Linked DNA regions of Homo sapiens: region 2 is linked to region 1. The links come from fine-mapping of genetic effects on gene expression. A gene starts in region 1. The other region holds a variant in brackets. All regions are shown on one strand. Distances are from middle to middle.

Region 1 (10,672 bases):
GTCTTCAGGAGGCCCTGGAGGCAGATGGAGTTCCCAGGGCAGAGAGAAGTGGAGGCAGAGCCCAGGCTCCAAATTAGTGGAGTGAGCCCCCACTGGGTCCTGAGTTGGCTCAGAGTGGGTGAGACAAGGGGCCCAAGGTATGTGTGTACATGTCACAGCTATCCCCAGCCCAAGGGTTTCTCCAGGGCATAGGTCCTGGCATCTGGGGGCAGCTACCCCCCAATCTATCCCTTCCTCTGCTGCTGCCATTTAATTTTGGAATAAGACATTGGCCTAAGAGCTGGGCCAGGCTCTGGCCAGTGGCGGGTTGGGATTGGGGGGTCTGCAAACAGGGATGAAGCCAGGCTGGAACCACGTGGACCTGGGTTTAGTCTTGACCCTTCCTGACTCCCATGTAACCTTAGACAGCCTCAGCTACCTCACTGGGCCTTGGTTTTCTCATCTGATAAGGGTGAAGAGTAATTCCTGCCTCCCTCACAAAGTAGCAAAGAGGCATTTGTAAGATGATCTGTGAGTAAGGTTCTGAAGCGCAGGGCTAGGTGAGGGACGGCTGCCAGCTTGCTGCAGGACCACAGCCAGTTTCTTCCCCTTTCTGAACTTTCGTGTCCTCACTTTCAAAAAAAGCCATCCTGGCCAGGTGCAACGGCTCACAGCTATAATCCCAGCACTTTAGGAGGCTGAGGTGTGTAGATGCTTGAGCCCATCTCTCCAAGAAATAAAAAAAAAAAATAGCAGGCCATGGTGGCACACACTTTTGGTCCCAGCTCCTTGGGAAGCTGAGATGGCAGGATCCCTTGAGCCCATGAAACATCGCTGTAGTGAGCAATGATCATGCCACTGCACTCCAGCCTGGGTGACAGAGTGAGAGCCCGTCTAAAAAAAAAAAAAAAAAAAAAAAAAAGCAAGCCATTCCCCGGCTCCTCACGTAGCTTTGACCTCTTTGTAGAACCCTTGCTTCTTCATCACCTCCCGCTGCCCCCATGAGGCCCAGAACAGATGTGCAATGAATGACCACTCATTGGTTGATTAACTGAAGGCAGCAGGGATTGTGGTTAGACAGCCAGGATGCGGGGGTGGGGCGGGGGAGTGTGTGTGATGGAGGACTTGGTGCAGGCCAAGCTGCTGCCCTGGGGTCACGTATGTGGGGGCCCCCATTCCCTTTGCTCCTTTACCTGCCTTCATTCACTCTGTGACCTCAGGTGTTCCTGGGGTGTTCCTCTCCTAGTCTCATAGCACTTACTCCATCCCCATCACTGCCAGTGGCCATCCACCTTGTGCCAGAGGGCGTGGTGTTGGGCAGGGGAAGAGGTACCACTATCATCTTCATTTAGTGGGTCTGCAGGCCAGGAACTGGTGCTTTCTTTAAGCAGGGCTCTGTGGCAAGCACTGTGGGAATGTTACTGAAAACAGGTCCTGACCCAGACCCCAAAAGAGGGTTCTTGGGGCTCATGCAAGAAAGAATTCAGGGTGATTCCGCAGAGTAGAGTGAAAGTAAGTTTATTAGATAAGTAAGGAAACAAGGGCCAGGTGCGGTAGCTCATGCCTGTAATCTCAGCATTTTGGGAGGCCAAGGCAGGAGGATTGTTTGAGCTTGGGCAAAAAAGTGAGCCTCCATCGCTACAAAATCAATCAATAAATAAAAGCCTATGGCTACTCCATAGGCAGAGCAGCCCCCAGGGCTGCCGTTTGGCTATTTTTATGGTTATGTCTTGATCATATACTAATAAACAAGGGGTGGATTATTCATGAGTTTTCCAGAAAAGGGGTGGGGATTTCCCAGAACTGAGGGTTCCTCCTCCTTTTAGACCATGGAGGGTAACTTCCAGATGTTGCCATGGCATTTGTAAACTGTCTGATGCTGGTGGGAGCATCTCTTAGCATGCTAATGCATTATAATTAGTGTATAATGATCAGCGAGGCCAGGCACGGTGACTCATGCCTGTAATCCCAGCACTTTGGGAAGCCGATGGGGGCAGATCATTTGAGGTCAGGAGTTTGAGACCAGCCTTGCCAACATGGTGAAACCTCATCTCTGCTGAAAAAGAAAAAAAGAAAAATCAGTGAGGGCAATCAGCGGTCATGCTCATCACCCTCTTGGTTTTTGCGTGTTCTTACCAGCTTCTTTATCTCATTCTATCAGCAGGGTCTTGTGACCCGTATCTTGTGCCGGCCTCCTATCTTGTCCTGTGACTAAAAATGTCTAACCTCCTGGGAATGCAGCCCAGCAGGTTGCAGCCTCATTTTACCCAGCCCTTGTTCAAGATGGAGTCGCTGTGGTTCAAACGCCTCTGACAGGAACACATCAAGATGAGTGAGAACCATTGCTGTGTTCTAGACATAGTGATGTAGTTAGGCTTTGCATCCCCACCAAATCTCATCTTGAATTGTAATCCCCGTAGTCCTCATGCGAAGGGAGAGACCAGGTGGAGGTCATTGAATCATGGGGGCAGTTTTCCCCATGCTGTTCTCGTGATAGTGAGTGAGTCATCACGAGAGCTGATGATTTTATAAGTTGCTCTTCTCCCCTTTGATCAGCACTTCTCCTTCCTGCCGCCTTGTGAGAAAGGTGCCTTGTTTCCCCTACGCCTTCCACCATGATTTTAAGTTTCCTGAGGCCTCCCCAGCCATGCTGAACTGTGAGTCAATTAAACCTCTTTCCTTTATAAATGACCCAATTTCAGGTAGTTCTTTTTGTTTTTTGTGTGTTTTTTGAGATGGTGTCTCACTCTGTTACAGCCCAGGCTGGAGTGTAGCGGCACGATCTCGGTTCACTGCAACCTCTGCCTCCCTGGTTCAAGTGATTCTCCTGCCTCAGCCTCCCAAGTAGCTGGGATTACAGGCATGCGCTACCACGCCCGGCTAATTTTTGTATTTTTAGTAGTGATGGGGTTTCACCATGTTGGCCAGGCTGGTCTTGAACTCCTGACCTCAGGTGATCCGCCTGCCTCAGCCTCCCAAAGTGCTGGGATTACAGGCGTGAGCCACTGCGCCTGGCCTCGGGCAGTTCTTTTCAAAGCAGTATGAGAAGGAACTAATACACATGGCCATGCAGTGTAGAAAGCACATCTACTACCACTTCCTCCTGGATTGTCACCACATCCCTGAGAGGACCCAGAAGAGGAATCTGTTGTTTGCAAAGGAGAAAAATGAAAGCTACGGTTTGGTTGACATTTGTGGAGTGCCTGTTATTTCTTAGGCACTTAGGTTTACCTCTGCGACAGGATAGAACTGTAAGTGGCCCTGGCATCTGAGTCAATCCCTAGATCCATTGTCTGTTGGGTGGGGCTGGGTCCCCACATGAGTAGCAGCCAGAACAGGTCCCTCCAAGGCCATGGTCCTGTGGGAGCTCAGATCCTTTTAACTAGGGTTGGAGCCTGGCGCCCTCTGGCGGCGAGCTGCAACCTCTACCCGCCAAACCCAAGGCCAGGCTGAGACCAGCCACCAATTCACACCCTTGTTTTGCAAGTGGAAAACCTCAGTCCAGAGAAAGGCCCGGGCTTGCTGAGACAGAATGACTTTCGTATTTGCTTTGTGGAATGTAAGTTGTCTGGTGAAGCATTATTGCTCTTCTTGTTAACCAAAATCAAAATTGAGAGGGTCAAGGCAGAACACTGATGTTTGCTGAGCCTTCCTTTATTCTCCCTATCTTCAGATGGGTGTGATGAGCCTATTTTACTGAGAGGAAAAGTGAAGCTCAGAGAGGCTAAAGAAATTACTTTCCCAGGCTCACAGAGCCAGCCAATGCAGAGCCAGGATTTGGACCCAGGTCTGTCTGACTCTAAGCCCACCCTGCCAGATCCCTGGAGTTTCACCTCCAGTCCCCTCTTCCCCAACAGTCCCCCCCATCTCCCAACTTCTTGGTATACTGATCTGGGACAGCAGAACGTCAGCAGTCATAAGTCCTTAGCTCCGTACTTGGTGTCACCGTGTCATTCAGACACAGCCAGTTACCACTCCTTGGCCTAAGCAGGGGAGGGAGACTGGGGGTTGGGAAGAGACGCTGGGCAGGGGAGACTCAGGGGCTTCTGGTGGGGATGGATTAGTGGGGTTGAGAATCTAAGCCAGAATTCGGAACCTCGGTAGCTATGAGATCTTGAGCAAGCGTCTTTACCTCTGTGAGCCTCAGGTTTCTCAGCCAAAAAGTGGGAAATTATAACAATACTTTGACGGCCCCACTTAGGAAAAAAAACAGTCCAGGTTTGGAGTTAAATTTTGGGGTCTGACTGGCTGTGGGGTTTGGGGCCAGTGATTTGACATCTCTGAGCAGATTTCAGATCCTGAATCTGTAAAATGGGTTGTTGTGGGGATTTAGTGAGGTGACTGAGCTGGCAGCACTTTGGAAAATGTGAGGCTTTACAAATGAAGCTGGTTTTTAGCACTTCCCTGGAATGGGGGCTCTGAGATGGGGAGGGAAATGGATACTGGAAACCGGCACCCCCCTCAACATTTCCCCTGAACCCAGGCACATGAGTTCTCATTCTGCATCCTATGCACCCACCAAATGGGTTTCTCCAAGCCTGGCACCCCACTCCTTTCCACCTTGCCTGAGGACCTGAGGCCCCTTCCCTCTTCCCACCTTGTTCTAGTTGCAAGCTGCAGAGGATGGCCTGAGTTTCCATTCTTCAGCCTGGAGGCTCTGGCTGTAGCCTCAGTCTTCCAGCTGCAGCCTCAATCTTCTGCCCCAAGAGAATCCGTTGGATGATTTGGGTTGATCTTTGGGAGGCAGGAGAGCTAGTTCCAAGGCCTGTGACCAAAACCTTTCAGTCACTCTCGAGTCCCAGAACCCCATCTTTCTTGAACCAAGCCTGCTCTGGTGCCCAAAGGGAAGGGGTGTCAGTGATGGGGGCCCACAGGAGACTTTTACTGTGGTCCAGTTTTATCTGTTATGCTGCTGGTCTGGCACCCACAGAACTGCCCTGTCCCCCTCCCGTCTCTGGCCTCAGTACTGGCGTTGCCAGTATGAGGAGACAGTGAGAGGAGGGGTGAGGGCTTCGGAGTGAGAGAGGCTGACAGGAGGCGGGGACTCTGGGGGGCTGAGGACTATAAAGCGGCCCAGCCGAGGGCAGGGGCCCATCCGGCCTGAGGCAGGTGCTCGCTTGGTCTAGTGCCCATTTACTCTGGACTCCGGGTAAGTGGGCTCAGCCTGCCTGGGGCTCTGGGGGCCTCCCCCAGGCTGGGGCCTGGGATGGAGAGGAGGTGGTGCTTTGCAGGGCCAGGGGCCTTGGGAGGCCTAAGGTCCTGCTTGGGTCTTGCTTTCTGCATCTGGACAGACCTGTCACGCTAGAAGAGCCGTCTGCTGACTGCACGTGTGTGTGCACACTCGTGTGCATGGCTGTGAACTGGAATGTGTGACTGTGACCTTGTGAGTGACTGGGGTCCCTGTGTGAGTGCCTTTGCTGGTCTGTGCAGGACGACATGGACAGTAGCGTCTTCTCCAGGACCGATATCTGTGTCTCTATCGCAGGGTGGAGGGCCAGACCCACAAGGCCATGGATTTCTGTCCTTGGCTTCCCGAGTTCATTCTGTGTCCCCCACCCTGTGGGTGACCTGGCATGCCCTTATTCCCACTAGCTGCTGCCTCCTGGGAGCCATGAGGCCCTGGATGTCATGAGTCCCGTGTCTCCAGGACTCACATCCCCATTTTCTCTGCTATACTTTTCTAACTTGCGAGGCCCTGGCTTGCTGGGCTGCTCACAGGACAGGCTGTCCGTGCCTTCAGAGCAGTGTCTAGGAGGTGGAGTGGCCAGCTTGGAGTGGCCCTTTGCTCTGCCCCCTTGTCCCCAGGCTTGGAGAAATGGATGATGGGCTAAGGGGCTGGATAGTTGGGCCCTGCTTCCTGGGCACGGGAAAATCTGCAGCCCGGGCTCTCCACCTCCCCTCTGCTTGCTCCTCAGATGGCTGCCGCACGCCTCTGCCTCTCCCTGCTGCTCCTGTCCACCTGCGTGGCTCTGTTACTACAGCCACTGCTGGGTGCCCAGGGAGCCCCACTGGAGCCAGTGTACCCAGGGGACAATGCCACACCAGAGCAGATGGCCCAGTATGCAGCTGATCTCCGTAGATACATCAACATGCTGACCAGGCCTAGGTGTGTGCCACAGTTGGGGAGAGAGATCCCAGCCCCTGGGACCCTGGGCCCACTCCACATTCCTGGCCACACCCTATCCCCAGCCCCAGCCCCAGCCCCTTCCAGGCCTGCTCTTGGGAAAACAGGGCATCTGTGCTCAACAGGCCTAGACCAATGTGCCCTGGGCAAGATGGTGCCTACAGGCAGATATGAAACAGGTGGGCTGGCACCTGGGCACAGTGCTTGCCCCTGCTGCCTCTTCCCTCCCAGGTATGGGAAAAGACACAAAGAGGACACGCTGGCCTTCTCGGAGTGGGGGTCCCCGCATGCTGCTGTCCCCAGGTGAGTTTGACTCCCTGCCCTGTCTGTCCAGCTCCCTGGAGCTGAAATGGGGGTGGTGGGACTGAATCAGGGCTTGGAAAGGTGTAGTGGGGGGTGGAAGAGGGAGAACAGGAGCCCAGGGCCAGCCTGAGGCCTCCTGAGGGCACGAGGCCTACCCCCTACACTGCCATGTTCTGCCCTGTCCTCACAGGGAGCTCAGCCCGCTGGACTTATAATGCCACCTTCTGTCTCCTACGACTCCATGAGCAGCGCCAGCCCAGCTCTCCCCTCTGCACCCTTGGCTCTGGCCAAAGCTTGCTCCCTGCTCCCACACAGGCTCAATAAAGCAAGTCAAAGCCACAGCCTGTCCTGTGTCTCTGTGGACCCCTGGTGGGGGCAGCAGGAAGTGCCAAATGCATGGGAGAGAAAGGGGAGGGCAGGGCAGGGCAGAGGAAAAGGGGATCATCCAGAACGTTGGCGGGGGTCATCAGAGTCACTCAACTCATCCTCTCCCCTTCGCAGAGGGAAAAGTGGTGGCCAGAGGAAGGCAGGGACTCCTCTGAGCAGATGGTCCTTCAGCAAGTCTGTGAAGTGGCAGTCTTGAATCTTCCCAGTTCAGTACCCATAGACCTTCCCGACACAGCCTGATGACAACCCTTCCCCAAGTGCACCCCTCACCAGTGCCTTACTGCAGCCTAGGCAGCAGAAGCACCAAAATTTATACGAAAGCACCCTTGGCATGGGGGCAGGGGCACAGCCCAGCCTGGAAGAACGATTCTGGTGCTATGGCAGTCATGGCTGCATCCAGGGGCCTGAGCTGCCGTCCAGAAATTTGGAGAGAATGGGCTGCCCTGAGAGGTAGTGAAGTCCTGGGCACAGGAGGTATTCAAGCTGCTGTGGAAGGGGAGGAGGCTAGATTAGCTGAGAGTTCCAGCCACCATGAGTTGAATCTGTAGATTGTACACTCCAGCCCTGGGAGGACAAGGACCTGGATCCTGCCCCAGGGAGGACTTCCCAGATTCCCAGAGAACCCATCTTTTCCTGGCCCTTCTCAGGCACCCTGAATAGGTGGGGACAGTGCGCGTGTGCATGCGTGTGTACGCGCATGTGTAAAGGGGAGAAGTGAGGGAACTAGAATGTTTCTGGTTCCTAGAAAGGCTTCTCCTGCCTCCCCCACATGCTTGGTCTCAAGGGATGGGGTTATGGGTTTGGAGGATGAGGGGTCCACTTTCCTGGGCTCAGCACCTTGCACAGAAATGGAAATGACACACAATTGTGTTTCCCCTCAAGTCCTACTCCATCTGGTGTGTGCAAATGACCTGGAAGTAGAAACAGGTCCTAAAAGGCAAAGAGCTTCTAGAGGATGCAGCTGCTTGGCTCAGATTGATTTTTTGTTTGTTTTTGGAGACAGGATCTTGCTCTGTCACCCAGGCTGGAGTACAGTGGCATGATCACAGCTCACCATAGCTTTGACCTCCTGGGCTCAAGCGATCCTCCTGCCTCAGCCTCCCAAACAGCTGGAACTACAGGCACATGCCACCACACCCAGCAAATTTTTTTATTTTTTAGAGACAGGGTCTTGCTATGTTGCCCAGCATGGTCTTAAACTCCTGGGCTCCAGCGATCTGCTCACCTCGGCCTCCCAAAATGCTGGGATTACAGGTGTGAGCCACTGTGCCCAGCCTCAGGTTGATTCTTAAATCCAAAGATGTCTGGATAGAGAGATGGTTTCGCAAAAGAACGGTTTGAGTCTGGGAGAGGGAGCCTGAAGTCCCAGCATTTTCTCTGGCAGCTTAAGGGGATGCGCGGTGAATGGGGAGAGGAGTCTGGGCTGTTTGGTAGAAACTTGAGCCAGGTGGGAGTTGGGGTGTGTCTAGCTGAAGCCCCTTCTTTGAGGTTTCTTCTCTCACCTCTGCTCTCCCTCTGGGTTAGAGCCCCCCACACTGGTGCTGTCTGTGCAGGACTACAGGGGCAATAAGTGTCTTCTCCAGGACCCGTATCTGTGTCTCTACCACGGGGTGGAGGGCCAGACCCACAAGGCCATGTGTGGGTGGAGTGGGGGAAGGTGGATGGGTTGCCAGGGGAGGCAGGGGAGGACCCCCAACAGCTGAGGTCTTTTTCTCTCACAGCAGAAACTACAGGGTCCCACTTCCCGTTCCATGGACTGGTCCCTCCCTGCCCGCAGGCCCACAGAAGTCACTGAAGCAACAAAAATTTGTCTTTATTGTTTTCACTGAGGGGATGAGGAGGGGTCGAGGCCCCTCTCAATACAAAGGGGTTGGTGGGCAGAGAGGCGTCTGGAGGCCAAGGCCCAGCCTGGAGAAAGAAGCCCCCCCCACAGGGGTGCTGTGTCTCCCCGCATGCCCGCCCCCAGGAACTTCCTCTCGCTAGCACCCAAGCTGCCCCCAGCCCCGAGGCCCCTGGCTCGGTGCCCAGCATCCAGGCTGTCCTACCTGGGGCCCCGGGAGGAGGTCGGTGGTCGGGGTTCCGAGGTGTTCAGCCACTGGGGGTTCGTGGTGGTCCATGGTGGGGGTTTCGTGGCTTTTGATGGGGAGGTGTCCGTGGCGTTCGCAGTTTTCTTGTGGTTTTTAGATTTCTTCGGGCTGGGAACAAGTCTTTGCAGTCATGAGGCCGCTCCCCGAGCCCAGCTCAGGCCGCGATGTGCGTGGGGGTGCCTGGTGGCGTCCGTGTCCCCCCCCCGCGCCCCCCCCACCCCCCGCTTTCCTCCCTCCCTCCCTCCCTTCCTCACACCCTCCGCCGGCCCACCTGCTGTTGAAGAGCTTCCCCAAGTACTTCTTGATGGAGCCTAAGTTCAGCCAACTGGCGGCCCTGGGCTGCGGCACTTGCAGCTCCTCGCCGAGGGCGCCCTCGGGCTGCATCAGCAGCGACACGAGGCCCGCTATGGCCAGAGCGAATGCGCAGCGCAGAGCAGGCGTCTGGAGGGGGCGGGGCAGACAGAGCCGCGGGAGGTCACGTGATGCCGGGGCTGTGGTCAGCGCGGCACCCGGACCGGAGCTTGCAGGTGTTCCGCGCGGTGGGCAGGCTGGGGTGCAGGGGCGCTCAGACCGAGGGTCGTGTCTATTTCTGGGACACACACCAGAGCACGGACGCCTTAAGGGACATCCTGGTGCTCGGAGGAATGGTACACACCTGGACATGCCCGGTGATGCAGGCAGAGCATCGAGGCGCGGTGGCTCACGCCTGTAATCCCAGCACTTTGGGAAGCCGAGGCGGGCGGATAACCTGAGGTCAGGCGTTCAAGATCAGCCTGGCCAACATGGCGAAACCCCGTCTCTACTAAAAATACAAAAATTAGCCGGGCGTGGTGGTGGGCGCCTGTAATCCCAGCTACTCTGGGGGCTGAGGCAGGATAATTGCTGGAACCCGGGAGGTGGAGGTTTTAGTGAGCCGAGATTGCGCCACTGTACTCCACCCTGCCCAACAGAGCCAGACTTCGTCTCAAAAAAAGAAAAAAAAAAAAAAGAAAAAGAAAAAAAAAAAAAAAAAAACGAACGAGGAGACACACCCTAAGGTGGACGCATGAGGACGGCATAAAGCCATTGGTCAGCTCCCTAACCTCACTGCCCTCTCTCCCGCAAACTCCTTGCTTATCCCCCTCCTTTCTCCCTGCTGTTCCCGCAAAATGACGGTCACTCTGTTCTCTGCCTGGAAGACTCTTCCTCCAGACATCCTCATGGCCAGCTCTGTCTCCCCTTGTAAGCATTAGCTCAAAATCCACCTTTTAAATGGATCCTACCCTGACACCCCTATTTATAATTGCAACCTGGCCGGGCGCGGTGGCTCACGCCTGTAATCCCAGCACTTTGGGAGGCCGAGGTGGGAGGACTGCTTGAGCCCATGAGTTCAAGACTAGCTTGGGCAAAAGACAGAGAGCCCCGTCTCTACGATTTAAAAAAATAAATAAATAAAATAATATTGCAACCAAACCCCTCATCTTGCTCTTTTTCTTGCTCTATTTTTGCCCTATTTTTTCTTTTCTTTCTTTTTATTTTATTTTATTGTTTTAAGGCAAGGCCTTCTTTTGCCTTCCAGGCTGGAATGTAGTGTCGGGATCATAGCTCACTACAGCCTCAAACTCCTGGGCTCAGGCCATCCTTTTGCTTCAGCCTCCCAAGTAGCTAGGTCTACAGGTGCATACAATCATGCCCAACTAAATTTTAATTTTTTGTAGAGATGGAGTCTTGCTATGTAGCCCAGGCTGGTCTCAAACTCCTGGCCTCATGAGATCCTCCCGCCTCACCTCCCAAAGTTCTGAGATTACAGGTA
Region 2 (10,672 bases), 28 kb before region 1:
CAATCCGCCCAACTTGGCCTCTCAAAGTGCTAGGATTACAGGTAAGAGCCACTGTGCTCAGCCTACCCACTGTTTAATTGCCAAAAGAAGCCTGTGACACGAGCTTTACTATTCTCTTTTTACAGTGAGGCTCAGAGAGGCCAAGCAAACTCTCTCAAAGTCACACAGCTAAGAAATGCGAGTGGGATTCAAACCCAGAACATCTGACTCCGGAATCCATACCCTTTCCACCACCCCTAGGTTTGTAAGTATGTGGAAAGGAAAGACATGTTCAGAAACCATTAAGAACAGATGGTTCTGGGTTGATCTGATTTTCCCCGTTGATGGAATTATTTGGTCGGGGATAGGAGTGCCGCAACTCCTCATGTCTGGACTTCAGCAAGGCACACAGCACAATCTCTCCTGACATCCTGCAGACATGGGGTGATGTGTGGGCGAAATGGCTCAACGGCTGGAAGAATTTCTAATTAAATGAGAGGCTGCTTCTAAAGGCAATCCATGACTGAAAGCGGGAGATGGCGGCTTTGCACCACAGGGCTCTGTCCTTTGTCCTACTCTGTTGAACTTTTTTTTCCCTATCCTCCCCCCCATATTTATTTCTAATTATCGAAATAATATATGTCTGCTGTAGAAAAATATAAACTATAGCTAAGCCAAAAGAAAGAAAAAGCATCCTAATCCTCACCAGCACCACTTGCTGAACAGCCTTTTTCAATTTGCTGTAACTCTGAACATTTTTAGAATACAATGTTAGGACCCGAATTCCCGCAACAAAAGATAACTCCACTGTTCACACTGAGGGCGCATCCTGCCAGTCTCTTTATTGCAAACAATAGCAAGAAAATGTAGCACGTTATGGGGTGCTTACATTGAGCTGGCAACAGTCCTGAGCTTCTGACAGCCATTATTTCATTCAATCCTCCTAACCCTTTACGGGCACTTTTATGACCTATTTTTCACAGATGACAAAACCAAAGCTCAGAGATGAAATGATTTGCTCACACCACAGAGACTGGGTGAACAATTGACACAGGGTTTGAAGCAGGTTTTGTCGGATTCTGGAGTGGGGCTTTGAGCAACCATGGGACACCTCCCTCCAAAGGTGCCTGCGTGTTCACCTAGAACCATCCCCCACTGCCTGCCCTTCCACCCCACCCTCTACTAGTAAAGGGGGCAGTTTGTGCAGGACGGTCTGAATCTGCCTGTTGCTTCTCTTCTGCTTGCACAGTAGCATCCGGGGACACAAATGTTATGTGCGGGAAATGCGCGAGGGAAGAAAAGACACACCCACGATACCTTTAAGGGTAAACAACCTTTATCCCATGTAAATGGCAATGTAGATATAATAAGCAAATGATATAATAATAAGCAGATTGATATAATAAGCAAATTGCAATGGGAAGGGGAGAAGGGAAAAGATATTCATACTCACCAGACTATGGAGGATTCACCACCAGACTGGGAAGCAACAGCCTGGGTCGGCTCCAGAGTCGGCCACTTGTCCGTGCACAGACAAGGAAGAGGTCTCATGAAGCTTTGGCACAATCTAGGACCCTAGCTCTTTTGTAACGAGTTGTTTGGCATGAGGTCCAGGCACGAAGGCCCTTCGTGACCAGGCTCAAGGAACACAAAAAGGTCAACTTGTTTTTGCGATTGTCTGTTGTTTTTCTTATATACTTATTTATTTATTTTTTGAGACGGAGTCGTGCTTTGTCACCCAGGCTGGAGTGCAGAGGCACGATCTTGGCTCACTGCAATCTCTGCCTTCCCGGTTCAAGTGATTCTCCTGCCTCAGCCTCCCAAACAGCTGGGATTACAGGTGGCCGCCACCATGCCTGGCTAATTTTTGTATTTTTAGTAGAGACGGGGTTTCACCAAGTTGGCCAGGCTGATCTCGAACTCCTGGACTTCAGGTGATCCACCCACCTTGGCCTCCCAAAGTGCTGGGATTACAGACGTGAGCAACCACGCCCAGCTTTGTTTTTCAGTAACGTATAGGAATAGATTGAAATAGAGATTTCTCCAAAACAGCGCTGGATGAATGCCTCAAGGGGCTCACACAGCCCCTTCTGGTACTTGGTGACCATTGTTTGTGTCCATGTTCAATTGAGTTCAGATTTAATATTTAACTTTTCCTCCACAACGACCTAGGATGTGATCCCACACCAGGCACAAACCCCAGAGACTCTCCTGATCTGTCAGTAGCCACCCATGGGTGCTTACAGTAGGAGGGTGGCTTGCCTAGGAAGCCAGGAATTTATCTTTAAGTGACAAACACTTTTTAAAAACTTACTTTCAGGTTCTGTTCTAAGCACTTTAGAAATAACTTTTTTTTTTTAAATGACTTTTTTGGCAGAGTGCTGTGGCCCACATCTGTAATCCAGCACTTTGGGAGGCTGAAGCAGGAGGATCACTTGAGGCCAGGAGTTTGAGACCAGCCTGGGCAACATAGTGAGATCGTGTCTCAACAAAAATAGGCTGGGTGCGGTGGCTCACGCCTGTAATCCCGGCACTTTGGGAGGCTGAGGCGGGCGGATCACGAGGTCAAGAGGTCAAGACCATCCTGGCCAACATGGTGAAACACCGTCTCTACTAAAAATACAAAAATTAGGTGGGCTTGGTGGCACGCCTGTAGTCCCAGCTACCTGGGAGGCTGAGGCAGGAGAATCGCTTGAACTCAGGAGGCGGAGGTTGCGGTGAACCGAGATCACGCCACTGCACCCCAGCCTAGCGACAGAGTGAGACTCTGTCTCAAAAAAACAAAACAAAACCAAAAATAAATACTAATACAAATTAGCCGGGTATAGTGGTGCATGCCTGTTTGCCTAGCAACTAGGAAGGCTGAGGTGGGAAGATCGTTTGAGCTCACGAGTTCAAGGTTACAGTGAGCTATGACTGTGCCACTGCATTCCAGCCTCGGTGATTGAGATCCTGTCTCAAAAAAAAAAATGTTTTTTAAAGTAACATAAAGTTGGCCGGGTGTGGCGGCTCACGCCTGTAATCCCAGTGCTTTGGGAGGCTGAGGCAGGCAGATCACCTGAGGTCAGGAGTTTGAGACCAGCCTGGCCCAACATGGTGAAATCCCATCTCTACTAAAAAAAATACAAAATTAGCCCGGCGTGGTGACACACAGCTGTAGTCCTAGCTATTCAGGAGGCTAAGACAGGAGATTACTTGAACCTGGGAGGTGGAGGTTGCAGCAGGCCAAGATCACGCCACTGCACTCCAGCCTGGGTGACAAAATGAGACTCCCTCTCTCAATAAATAAATAAATAAATAAATAAATAAATAAATAAAATAAAATAAAATAAATAAATAACTAAAGTAACATAAAATAAAATTGACCATTTTGTTGGTGTACAGCTTTATGAGCTTTAACACATGTATAGATTCCTAGACCCAATAATGGTGTCTGAACAATAAACATTCATACACAAAAAAGAGAATTTCAACCGAAACCTCATACCTTATACAAAAATTAGCTCAAAAGGGAAAGCAATGTAAAATAATAAAACTTTAGAGAAAAGTAGGGGAAAATCTTCATGACCTCAGTTTAGGCAAATAGTTCTTAGACTGGACACCCAAAAGAATGAGTCACAAAAGAGAACAATTGATAAATTGGACTTCATCATAAATAAAAACTTTTGTTCTATGAAAGACAGGGTTAAGAAAACGAAAAAACCAGCTACGGACTGAAAGAAAATAGTTGCAAATCACATATTCAGCAAAAGACTTGTATCCAGAATATATAAAGAACCCTTCAAACTCAACAATAAGAAAACCAACAACCCACTTAAAAAAAAAAAAACCACATGAACAGACACTGCACCAAGGAGGATATAAAGATGGCAGATAAGCACATGAATAGATGTTTGACATCATTAGACAACAGAAAGATGCAATTTTTTTTTTTTTTTTTGAGACAGAGCCTTGCTCTGTCACCCAGGCTGGAGTGTGGTGGCATGATCTTGGCTCACTGCAACCTACACCTCCCAGGTTCAAGTGATTCTCTTGCCTCAGCCTACTGAGTAGCTGGGATTACAGACTTGTGTCACCATGCCCGGCCAATTTTTATATTTTTAGTAGAGATGGGGTTTCACCATACTGGCCAGGCTGGTCTTGAACTCAGGATCTCACGTGATCTGCCCACCTTGGCCTCCCAAAGTGCTGGGATTACAGGTGTGAGCCACCACGCTTGGCCGGAAAATGCAAGTTAAAACCATGATGAGCTGCACTATCCACACATTAGAATGGGTAATATAAAAAATATTGACAATCCGAAGTGCCGAGAGGGTGCAGAGCAATTAGAACTCTTGTCCATTGATGGTGGGAATGCAAAATGGTACAGCCATCCTGGAAAACATTTTGCACTTTTTCTAAAATTAAGCACACAATTACATATGACCCAGAAAACTCTCTTCAGGGTATTTATCCTAGAGAGATGAATATGCCCACATGAATGTTTATAGCCGCTTTATTCATAGTTGATCCAAAATGGAAACAGCCCTAATGTCTTTCAATGGGTAACTGAGTAAACAAACCACATTAATATATTGGCATATTTACTATTCAGCAAGAAAAAGGAATGGACTATTGATACACAGAACAAATTGGAGTCATCTCAAGGGCATTAGGAGTGGACAAAGCCTGTCTCAATAAGTCACATACTGTATTATTCCAGTTGTGTGATATTCCCTAAAAGATAGAACTATAGTGATGGTAGTGGGTGCAAACATTAGGGCTGAGAGGCCTGACCACACAGGGATAGTACTAGGGGGTCCTTCGGAGTGATACAGTCCTTCTGTGTCCTGACTATGCTGGCGGTTCTAGGAGTCCTTTCTCCATTCAGTTGTCTTTGCACTTTGGTCAAAAATCAATTTGCCATATTTGCATGGGTCTATTTCTGTACTGTCTATTCTGTTCCATTGACCTAGCTATCTGTCATTTCACCTGTACTACACTCACTGTCTTTTTTTTTTTTTTAGACAGGGTCTCCTTCTGTCGTTTAGGCTGGAGTGCAATGGTGCAATCTCAGCTCACTGCAACCTCTGCCTCCTGGATTCAAGCAATTCCCATGCCTCAGCCTCTTGAGTAGCTGGGATTACAGGCATGTGCCACCACGCCCAGGAATTTTTGTATTTTTAGTAGAGATGGGGTTTTTTCATGTTGCCCAGGCTGATCTTGAACTCCTGGCCTCAAATGATCCTCCAGCCTCAGCCACTCAAAGTGCTGGGATTACAGGCATGAGCCACCTTCCCCAGCTTTTTTTTTTTTTTTTTTTTTTTTTAAGAGACAGGGTCTTGTTTTTTTATCCAGGCAGAGTACAGTGGTGTGATCATGGCTCACGGTAACCTCACACTCCTGGGTTTAAGCGATTCCCCCACTTCAGCCTCCCCAGTAGCTGAGACTACAGGCACCACCATGCCCAACAAATTAAAAAAACTTTTGGCTGGGCGTGGTGGCTCATGTCTGTATTCCCAGCACTTTGGGAGGCCGTGGCAGATGTATCATGAGGTCAGGAGTTCAAGACCATCCTGGACAATATGGTGAAATCCCATCTCTACTAAAAATACAAAAAATTAGCCGGGTGCGGTGGCGGGCACCTATAATCCCAGCTACTCGGGAGGCTGAGGCAGAGAATTGCTTGAACCCAGGAGGCAGAGGTTGCAGTGAGCTGAGATGGCGCCACTGCACTCCAGTCTGGGTGACAGAGCGAGACTCCATCTCAAAAAAAAAAAA[G/AG]TTTTTTTTGTAGAGACAGGGTCTTACTATGTTGCCCAGGCTGGTCTTGAACTCCTGGCTTCAAGCAATACCTACCTCTTGACTTAGCCTCCCAAGGCATTGGAATTATAGGCGTGAGATACCCAGCCTGGCCTAAGAGTATTGTTTTTTAATTGTGAGTGGATTTTGAATTTTTGTCAAATGGTTTTTCTTTATCAATCAATATGAGCATTTGCTTTTTTTTTTTTTTTTTTTGAGACAGAGTCTTGCTCTATCACCCAGGCTGGAGTGCAGTAGTGAGATCTTGGCTTACTGCAACCTCTGCTCCTGGGTTCAAGCGATTCTTCTGCCTCAGCCTCTGGAGTAGCTGGGATTACAGGTGCCCGCCACCACGGCCCAGCTAATTTTTGTATTTTTAGTAGAGACAGGGTTTCACCATGTTGATTAGGCTGGTCTAGAACTCCTGACCTCAAGTGATCCACCCGCCTCGGCCTCCCAAAGTGCTGGGATTACAGGTGTGAGCCACTGCACCTGGCCAAGTGATTGATTTTTGAATATTGAACCAGCCTTGCATTGTCAGGATAAATCCCACCTGATTGTAACATATACATTTTTTTTTGTTATATATTCCTGAGTTCAGTTGTCTAATATTTTTTTCTTTTTGAGATGCAGTCACACCCTATCGCCCAGACTGGAGTGCAGTGGCACGATCTTGGCTCACTGCAGCCTCTGCCTCCCAGGTTCAAGGCATTTTCCTGTCTCAGCCACCTGAGTAGCTGGGACTACAGGCGCATGCCCCCATGCCTGGCTAATTTTTATATTTTTAGTAGAGACAGGGTTTCACCATATTGGTCAAGCTGATCTCAAACTCCTGACCTCAGGCGATCCACCCGCCTTGGCCTCCCAAAGTGCTGGGATTACAGGCTTGAGCCACTGAGCTCGGCTTATTTATTTATTTAGAGATGGAGTCACACTCTGCTGCCCAGGCTGGAGTGCAGTGGCACAATCTTGGCTCACTGCAACGTCTGCCTCCTGGGTTCAAGCAATTCTCCTGCCTCAGCCTCCCGAGTAGCTGGGACCACAGGTGCACACTACCACACCTGGCTAATTTTTGTATTTTTAGTAGAGACAGAGTTTCACCACATTGGCCAGGCTGCTCTCGAACTCCTGACCTCAAGTGATCCATCTGCCTCAGTCTCCCAAAATGCTGGGATTGTAGGCATGAGCCACCGCGCCTGGCCAGCTAATATTTTGTTGAAGATTTTTACATATATGTCCATGAGAGATATTGATCTGTAGTTTTTTTTTCTTACAATATCTTTGTTTCATTTTGGTCTCAGGGTAATGTTGCCCTCATAAAATGAACGAAGGAGTATTTTCTCTTGTTCTATTTTCTGGAAGAGATTGTGTAAAATCAGTGTTATTTCTTCTTTAGTTATCCCGCTCTACTGCACACTTCCTATGATTGTGTCCGTGTTCAGGGCCAGGTGGCAGGAGGACACAGAGAGAAGAAAGCTATAGGGGTTCTCCTTCTTGGGACTACAACTGTTTTTAAAAATAAACACACACACATACACGCCCAGGCTGGTGTCTTACTCCTGCCCGCAAGTGATCCACCTCGGCCTCCCATAGTGCTGGGATTACAGACATGATCCACAGCCCCTGGCCCACAACTCTTGATCGGAGAGGGAAAGATTTGGTTGTCTGTGGACCCTGCAGCCACTGATACTACTGTCACCACTGCTACTCCCATGGAATTGTCTCGGGGCTGGGGCACGGGAGAATGAAGAAGAGAAAAATGGAGTTCCTTTTCTCTCTCTCAGTGCTAGACCTTCCCTTTCCACTCCTCGAGGCAGAACGAGCATTTCTCCTGTTGATCCCTCTCGTAGCCCCAGTGCCCATTCTGGATTTGGCGCTGTCTTGTATCGAGGCTGGGGAATATCAGAGGAAAAATGAGAAACTCATTTCAGCTCAGTGGAACGTTGAATTCTGGCTTTCTTCCCCCGTTTCCCCGCTGTGTTTACTTTCACACTCTTCAGAGAGCTGCCCCGTGCGTGTCTGTCCATGTTTCACAGCAGCATTCAGCAGGAGAGACAGGGTGGAGGCTGCTTACTCCATCTCATCTGGAACCTAATAGCTTTTTAAACCATCACAACCATATGAAGTAGATGCTATTGTTATATACATGTGGCCGATGACAAAACTGAGGCCCTTAGAGGTTAAGTAATTTTCCTAAGATCACACAGCTAGTCAGTGGCCAACCCAGTCATCCTAGCCCCAGAGTTTGTGGTCTGAGCTGCAAGTTCCACAGCTTCAGAGGGAGTTGAATGTGACAGCTCTGTGGGGTGAGGTATGGGGCTCGCCTGCTGTGGACAGGCCCTGATATCTCACTCCCTCTAACCTGCACAGTGTGTGAAGGGAGAGTGCATAGTGTTTAGGGAATTGCTTTCTTCTTCTTCTTCTTTTTTTAGACAGAGTCTCACTCTGTCATCCAGGCTGGAGTGCAGTGGTGTGATCTCAGCTCATTGCAGCCTCCGCCTCCCAGGTTCTGGTGATTCTCCTGCCTCAGCCTCCCGAGTAGCTGGGATTATAGGCACGTGCCACCACGCCCAGCTAATTTTTGTATTTTTAGTAGAGACAGATTTTCACCATGTTGGCCAGGCTGGTCTCGAACTCCAGACCTCAGGTGATCCACCCACCTTGGCCTCCCAAAGTGCTAGGATTAGAGGTGTGAGCCACCGCGTCTGGCCTTTTGCTTTCTTCTTTGATGAAGATCTGGACTGTGGTGGGATAGGAATAGCCTTCTGTCTTCAAGACATATGCATGTATGTGCATGTGTGTGTATGTGTGTATACATGCTTATGTATGTGCCTGTGTGTAAACCATGCAGCCATGGACAGTGAGGATGTGGATCCATTCATTCAGCAAGTGTACTTGAGCCACCACCATGTATCACACATTATTCTAGTCACTGGGGATATATCAGTGAAGAAACAGACAAAAACCTCTGCTCTCATGGAGCCTCCATTCTAGTAGTCAGACAACAAGCATACAAATAAGTCAATTACATAGAATGCTAGAAAGTGCTAAGTGCTGGGGAATAAACAGGGCAGATAAGGAGGATTGGGAGTGTTGGGGTAAAGGGCAGGATATAGTTATTAACACGAAACGATGTCTGCCATGTACTCTTGAATGCACTGCCTAAACTGCGATTTCATATGACTTCCTTGTATTCCAGAGGAAACTCATTCAGGCAAGTTCAGCCCTTTATGAGGAATTCCCCTGTGGTCACATTCCAATTCCTGGACCTGCTGCCACCCTCAGAACTGCATGCTCCTTCTTCAGACTTTCTAAGAATGACTCAGGTCATTGGTGGAGTGAAGTCAAGATTTCCAACTCAGTCACCTGAAGAGATGGAGATACCATTCATGGAGCTGGAGGTCCCTGGAGATTTGGGAATTCAGATAACAAGCTAAGATAAGGGTGAGCTACTGACTTGACCTCTCTCTGTGTCAGTTTCATATTCTGTAAAACCAGGCTAATGATGGTACATTATGTGTTGTGAAGACTAAAATAATATGTGAGACGTACCTGGCATAGTACTTGGCACAGTGTAGGCACTTAAGAAAGATTGATTTATTATTTTTGCTATTTAGGCTACATTGACTTTAAGCTGACTGAGAGATATCCATGGGGATATGTCTAGAAACAGTGGACTATGTGGATAGGGAACTCGGCAGAGGAGCAAATTACAGGGATTTTGGGGGTGATTAAAATCTTGGGGGTAGATGACAACCCTACAGTGAAGAAGAAAAAAGAAAAGAGAGCCAAGCATCTCATCTTGGGGAGCACCAATGTAAATAGGCAGAAACAGGAAATGCCAGGAAAAAATCATTTTTTGTTTTGTACTTACAATGGCTAGAAAAAAATATAATTTTACTTGTTTCTCTCTCTTTTTTTTTTTTTTTTTTTTTTTTTTTTGTGAGATGGATTCTCACTCTGTTGCCCAGGCTGGAGTGTGGTGGCATGATCTCGGCTCACTGAAACCTCCGCCTCCCGGGTTCAAGGAATTTTCCTGTCTCAACCTTCCAAGTAGCTGGGATTACAGGCACACACCACCATGCCTGGCAACTTTGTATTTTGGGTACAGACGGGGTTTCACCATGTTGGCCAGGCTGGTCTCGAACTCCTGACCTCAAGTGATCCGCCTGCCTTGGCCTCCCAAAGTGCTGAGATTACAGGTGTGAGTCACCATGCCTGGCCAAATATATACAATTTTTTTTTTTTTTTGATACGGAGTCTCACTCCGTCGCCCAGGCTGGAGTGCAATGGCATGATCTCGGCTCACTGCAACCTCTGCTTCCTGGGTTCAAATGATTCTGCTGTCTCCGCCTCCTGAGTAGCTGGGATTATAGGCACCTGCCACCATGCTCAGCTAATTTTTGTATTTTTAGTAGAGATGGGGTTTCACCATGTTGGCCATGCTGGTCTTGAACTCCTGACCTCAAGTGATCCACCCTCCTCGGCTTCCCAAAGTGCTGGGATTACAGGTGTGAGCCACTATGCCTGGCCATATATACAATTTTTATTTGTCCATTATTCCAGAATAAACCTGGAAGAAAAAAAAAGAGAAAAGAAAAGGAAAGAAAAAAAAGACTAGTCTGGATGCTAAGGATGTTCATTGCTATTGGTTTCAACATTGTTTCTAGCCCTTTTCTGTAAACAGAGATTTCCAAATCAAAGTCAGGACTGACGGGTGTTTATTTAACCTCTTCTATATGACATCTGTGTCCTCTTTCTTCCACATTGTAAATTCTTGTTCTCAAGGACACAGGAGATGGTAGCATTAAAAATCCCATTTATTTTAGAATAGCATTTGTTTGATCTATATTACACAGACGTCTCAGAATAAATACGGACTGGCACCACCAGTTATTACGGAAAACAGTTGATT

Direction of the effects. Positions count from the first base shown, and alleles are read on the strand shown. Sizes are in standard deviations (SD) of each study's normalised expression.
As copies of G replace AG in region 2, the expression in macrophages after interferon gamma of the gene that starts at base 5,073 in region 1 goes up (large effect, 0.94 SD a copy in Alasoo 2018).

The links. PIP is the estimated chance that this variant, and not a neighbour inherited with it, causes the effect. A credible set is the group of variants that fine-mapping cannot tell apart.
Region 2: its variant is the best candidate, but not a certain one, in a credible set for the expression of PPY in macrophages after interferon gamma (Alasoo 2018, PIP 0.59).

What each region holds. Positions count from the first base shown.
Region 1 is chr17:43,936,877-43,947,548 of GRCh38, reverse strand. PPY (pancreatic polypeptide) reads left to right here and starts at 5,073. Exons shown (of 4, transcript NM_002722.5): 1 at 5,073-5,128; 2 at 5,895-6,085; 3 at 6,335-6,406; 4 at 6,597-6,745. The coding sequence starts at 5,895. The coding sequence ends at 6,621. LINC01976 (long intergenic non-protein coding RNA 1976) reads right to left here and starts at 9,288. Exons shown (of 2, transcript NR_136406.1): 1 at 9,152-9,288; 2 at 8,587-8,988. RefSeq lists an enhancer at 9,002-9,502.
Region 2 is chr17:43,964,817-43,975,488 of GRCh38, reverse strand. It overlaps a transcript of PYY not described here. Among named protein-coding and RNA genes, the nearest start is that of PYY, 16 kb to the right of the region's middle. The variant G/AG (reference allele first, on the strand shown) is at 5,740.